2 separate regions of the Homo sapiens genome follow, and region 1 is linked to region 2. A link means that fine-mapping ties the variant in region 2 to the expression of a gene that starts in the linked region. Tissue or cell type: whole blood. Region 2 holds a variant in brackets; the other region holds the start of a gene. Each region is shown on its reference strand, or each on the opposite one. Region 1 holds the start of LINC01801 (long intergenic non-protein coding RNA 1801). Region 2 overlaps TRPM3 (transient receptor potential cation channel subfamily M member 3).

Region 1 (2,915 bases), not on the chromosome of region 2:
AACATCACACAGCAATATAAAAGAATAAAGTGCTGCTAAAAGCAACAACATGGATGAATTTTATGAAGTGTTGAATGAAAAGACACAGCCACAAACAGGACACATGGTAGGGTTCCATTTATATAAAGTTTTTAAATAGGCAAAACTAATCTATAATGTTAAAAATTTGGGAGGGGCATAGTGACTAGGAATGAGCATGAGGTTGATTCTGAGGTGCCTGTGTTTTGCTTCTTGATCTAGATTACATAGGTTTGTTCATTCTGCAAAAATGTATTGAGGAATAGACAGATGATTTGTACACTTCTGTGTATGAATGTTATATTGTAAAGTTTCTTGAAGAATACCTGTTTACAAGAGTTAGAGAACATGGAAGCTCTTTCTCTGAGATAAAACATCTAAAAAGACAAAAATTAGCCGGGCGTGGTGGTGGGTGCCTGTAATCCCAGCTACTCGGGAGGCTGAGGCAGGAGAATGTCTTGAACCCGGGAGACAGAGGTTCTAGTGAACCAAGATCACACCACTGCACTCCAGCCTGGATGACAGAGGAAGACTCTGAGACTCCGTCACAAAAAAGAAAAAACAAACAAACAAACAAACAAAAAAGCCCTAAGTCATATCATGCCAGTCTCAGCAGTTTGAAACCCTCCATGGTTCCCATCTCTCAGTAAAAGGCAACGTTCTTATGACATCCTTCAAGGCCCCATGTAGTCTTTTGGTCCCTCTCCATCTCTGTCCTCCTGTCATCCACGTCTCCCACGTGCTGATTGGGTCTGGTAGGGTGACTGGGTGGCAAAGACCTCACAGAGGTGCCTTTCTGCTCAGGTGGCAAACAGGAGAGTCTATCTGGGCCCTGCAGGATGGATCCTTCCTGAGTCACTGAATATATTGGAGGTGCAGACAGCGCCAGAGAAAGGCATTGAGCCTGCCAGATCAGACACCGCCTCTTAGGGTCGACGGAACACCCAGGAGCAAAGACCAGAAATTGTGGGAGAAAGGCCTGGAAGGGGGCCGGGGAGAGGCACAGAGACAGCGAGGTGATGCAGGCTTGGTGGGAGCGGGTATGGTAGGCAATGGGGGACAGAGGGGCAGGGCACAGACAAAGCTTGCTGAAGATATGAAGAGCAATTGTGAGCCGGCGAATCCTTGGAGTAGAGGAGAAAATTGAGGTCTCCTGTTCAGCCCGATGCAGGTGAGATGCTGTTGGAACACGTGACAGAGAAAGGGTGTGTGAGCCCAGGGCTTGTGCACTAAGCGCACAGGAGCGAAGGGGGCGAGAAGAAAAAACGACGCCCAGCAAAGAGCGTCAAGGCCCAACCGCCTGCCCCCAACCGGTCTCTAGCGCCTCGTGACCTTCTGCACTCCGTTGCAGGCGTTTGGCACCAGATGGTCCCACGCGCTCTGTTCGACGGTTGGGGGCCGCGGACGCTGGTTGTCAGCAGCACTGGGTCAGCCGGTGAACGGGTGTGCAGCGTCCTCAGCGCCGCAGCAGTCAGCACCTGTGGGTGCTCTAGCTCTTTCCCTCGGGGTCACCGGAGGCAGAGCCTCCCCTACGCGGAGTAGAGGAGCAGCTCACATGGTGCGGGGGTGGGGATCGGGCTTCCTGGAAGGCTGGAAATGGGAGTTGGGATAAGGGGTTGGCGAGGGCGGGGCGGCACCGTCTACCGGGGTGACCGGTGTGCCCTGGCAGCCAGGGAGTCTGCTGCAGGGCAGGTATTAAGATTCGGAGAGACATAGGACAAAGAACCCTCGGCCTCTTCTTTTCAGGCAGCCGCCACAGAGGACACCAGATCATGCCAACACCCCCACAACTCCTGCCCGCCTGCAGGCAGCTCTGGGCTCAGGACACCGCCTGCAAGAACCTTTATAGCGCAGCTCTCCAAACCTTGGAGGCGAGGACATTCTATGTGCCCGCCCTGGAAAGGCCTGAACCTATAACATCTGGGCTGTGATGGTTTCTGAGGTGGACACCAGGTATTCTAAACTGCCCACATGCTTCACCCCAAAACTTCCCTTTCTAACAGGCAGTGTATTTTCACTTCTTTTAAAATATTTGGTAAAACAGCATTTAAGCCTTAGAAAGTTCCCCATCTCACCCCAGCCAGGGTTTGAACCCATGCTGTCTGATTCCACAGATCATGCATTTAACCACCAGACTTTGGTGTAGCCTCACCGTGTGTGCATAATGGATTACACTTGTTTATAATACTTGGGGTGCTTAGCACCATGTCAGAGCTGTAATGAGTACTTGCACTGTTAGGAGGTCTAACATGGTTCAATTTATAAGTGGACCATTGGCCACACCGGGTCTGGCTCAGTCTCCTGGGAGGATGTAGGCAGGGACCACCAATTATCAGCATATCTCCATGATGAATTTCTCCAGACAGCGTATCACTCTGTCACACAGGCTGGAGTCACAGCTCACTGCAACCTCGAACTCCTGGGCTCAAGAGATCCTCCCACCTCAGCTTCCCAAGTAGCTGAGACTGCAGGCATGCGCCACCACGCCTGATAATTTCTCTTCTAATTGAGCTTTGCAGAAAGCCACACAGCTGTCTGAGAGCTATTTTCTCCCAGGTATAGGGACAGGAAATGGCACCTCAGACTTCTGCAGATTCCACCCTGGCTTAAAAGCCCATGCCCCCAAGGACACCAATCTTTCTTACAATAACATAGACTATCTTTCAGGGTCCTGGCCAAGATGGACAACTTGCCAATATTAACTTTTCCAGGCCACAGGGATGATATATATCTCCATAGATTTAGGTCTTGAGTATTTTCTCCTAGAAATATTTCGCAGCAAGGGTCAGCACTGCAGCCTATGGGCCAACAAATTTAGCCTGTAGCCTACATGTAAGGCCAGTGAGTGAAGGATCCTATTAACAATTTTAAAGAGTTGCAGCAGAATACACAGAAAC
Region 2 (2,915 bases):
TTACTTTAGGTAATTCTGGGAATTCTACTTCCTCCTTCAATTCTCAGCTTGGAGTTCAAGAACAAAGACGACATGCCCTATATGTCTCAGGCCCAGGAAATCCACCTCCAAGAGAAGGAGGCAGAAGAACCAGAGAAGCCCACAAAGGAAAAAGAGGAAGAGGACATGGAGCTCACAGTAAGAAAACATTGCACAGTTATTCTCTATGGGCAGAATTCCTAATCCACTTGTCCCACCGATATGCTCAAGATTCAGTAACTCCTTAGGTCAGACATCTGTTCCCAGCCTTCCACCAGGTTTAATCATGGAGTGCTTTCATTTCAGTATTGAGACCAGGGTATTGGAAAAGTGTAAATAGCATGACCATAGGGTCCACCCATATGTGAAGTCTTGCAGCCAGCTAGTGGTGCAGGACAAACCAATGAAATTCTAAAGCAAGACACTCTACATTTTCCAAACAAGCAAAGCTTTTTAAACAACCAGATGATGTGTCTGTCTCAGCACACAGAGAAGGAAAGGGAATCCATGATTTGAGAGCAGCCGGCTTCACTGAACTGGTACTGTTCTGCGGATCAGAAGCTAAGCCTGTATCTGTCTTCAGGGTCAGGCTCACAATTACAGCACTAATTGAATTTTGAGGTTTGTATGCAAAGCTTTTATTAGCTCTTCCTCATATAATTATAGAGCATAGAGGCTTTGTTCTGCAGAGGGAAGGGGGCAGCTGGACATGGGACAGCTTCTTGCAACCCCCGCCTGAGCAGCGTGACTGCCACTGGCTCATGTGCAGAGGCTAAAAATATCACATTCTGTTAAAGGGACAAACAAGGCTTCATAGCTTGGAAGTCATCAAGCAACAGCTCCATAAGGACTTTCTCAATATGCCTCACCCTCCCTCACCACCCCCACCAATGACCATTGCTGTAGTGACCCAGAAGCTATAAGGGGTGAAATCACAAATTAATTTTGCTCAGGTGACAAAAGGCCTTTGCATTATTATCCTAGTAGGACAGCAGTGTGAATTGTTTCTCCTGCAGGTAAACAATATTTGCTTCCAGTAGGCTTCTCCTAAAGATCTATTTGCAGACATAATCCCTGACTTACTGAATGAAAGGCCAACTTTTGTTTCAGTTTGAGGATTTGTATAAAAATCTGTGGAGGAGTCGGCTCAGCTCTGTAACAGACGACTGTCTTCCCTAACAATCTCACCATAGTTTTGTCCTCTGAATAGAATATAATAGTTTGATCATTAGAAGAAAATTGGCAATAGTAATACTGAATCTTT[A/T]TGGAATATTTCAGCTGAACATGTGCTCTGTAGCCAGAATCCTGCCCCATTACCTACTTGCTGTGTGACCTTGGGCACAATTTTATAACCTCAAACACAGGAACAATAATGTTGTCTACCTCACAAGTAGTTGTCTCGTGTAAAAAGTGTGCCTGTAAACTACTTATATTGGAGACTGGCACACTGTGAACTAATACTGTTTTAACAGTGCTAAGTGCTTTACACATACTTACTAATGGAATCCTCACAAAAGTCCCACAAGATAGGCACTATTATTATCCCCATTTTATTTATTTATTTATTTTTAGAGACAGGGTCTCACTCTGTCACCCAGGCTGGAGTAAAATGGTGTGATTATAGCTCATTGTAACCTCAATGGGATTCAAGGGATCCTCTGGGCTCAAGGGATCCTCACACCTCAGCCTCCCAAGTAGCTGGGAATGCAGGTGCACACCACAACACCTGGCCTTTTTTTTTTTTTTTTTTTAAGAGATTGCCCAGGCTAATCTTGAACTCCTGGTTTCAAGCAGTCCTCTAGCCTTGGCCTCCCATAGTGCTGGGATTACAGGTGTGAGCCACCACACCCAGTCCTAATCCCCATTTTACAAATGAGGAAGCTGACAGTCATAGAGGTTAAATTGCTCAAGGATACCCAGCCTGTTCATGGCAAAGCTAAGATTAGAACCCAGGCATATAGACTCCATCAGCCACACTTTTAGACAATAGGTTAAGGGTGAGAGAGAATGTCTCTCTAGTCTCAAGTGTGGCCACTCAGCCGATTTGGTCCACCATGTAGCAGAAAGAATCCAAAAGTGATGAATGAGCCTCCAAAGTCAAGTGTGGCACAGTCCTGACATCAGCACACATCCTAGGAAGACATCCAGAAACTGAATCAGCATTCTCTCTGGTTGGGTCTCAAGGAAGAAAGCAAAGGGAGGTAGCTTCCCCTGCTCAGCCTAGAGCTTTGAGAACCTGATCCTTCAAGAAGCCACCATAAGAGATGCATCTCTAGACTAAGAGCAAAGTTTAGTAACAAGAGAATAGACCCTGACGTTGTTTACTAAGAGCCCAGTAGAAGGTTCTGCAAGAGCTTTGCTGCCCAAGCTTCTTCTCCACAGGCAGAAACAGCAGGGAGAAGGAAAGAAGGAAAGGACATGTGGCCTGGCAAACTCAGGGCTGGACAGCAGTTGTCTGTAAAGTGGACCCTTCCCTTGACTCTGATGGCAAATTCTGTCACTGCTCAGGCACTGGTCAGTGGACAGAACTTGGACAGAACTGCAGAGTGCAGCTCATTGGCACTTCCCCTCCTTTTATGGGATTGATATTTGAGCTTCTGTGTTAAACCAGTATATCCTCTCTTGGAATGGGACATTTTCCTTTGGCCCTTCCAAAACGACACACGAAAATATCAACCTCAATTCACTCCATTTTTGTAGCTTTTAGTAGTTTAGTTCACCTCAAAAGAACTTTCTCAGCCTTGACATCTGTGTCTAGCCAGCATAGATTCTCAAATCATGCTGTGCAGTTTTGTCTATATTTGACCCTGTTAGATTCTGCTTTAAGGAATGTCAAAGGAAATGTCTGAATACAGAGAAAAGACATAAACAAAATCACAAGTTAAGCTGCTTAGGCT

Evidence for each region.
Region 1: it holds the start of LINC01801, and the variant in region 2 is fine-mapped to the expression of LINC01801 in whole blood (TOPMed, PIP above 0.99).

Annotation. Positions count from the first base shown.
Region 1 is chr19:34,831,386-34,834,300 of GRCh38, reverse strand. LINC01801 (long intergenic non-protein coding RNA 1801) reads left to right here and starts at 1,432. Exons shown (of 6, transcript NR_033982.1): 1 at 1,432-1,576; 2 at 1,765-1,971.
Region 2 is chr9:70,613,170-70,616,084 of GRCh38, reverse strand. TRPM3 (transient receptor potential cation channel subfamily M member 3) reads left to right here. Exons shown (of 26, transcript NM_001366145.2): 18 at 10-177. Among named protein-coding and RNA genes, the nearest start is that of MIR204, 200 kb to the left of the region's middle. The variant A/T (reference allele first, on the strand shown) is at 1,283.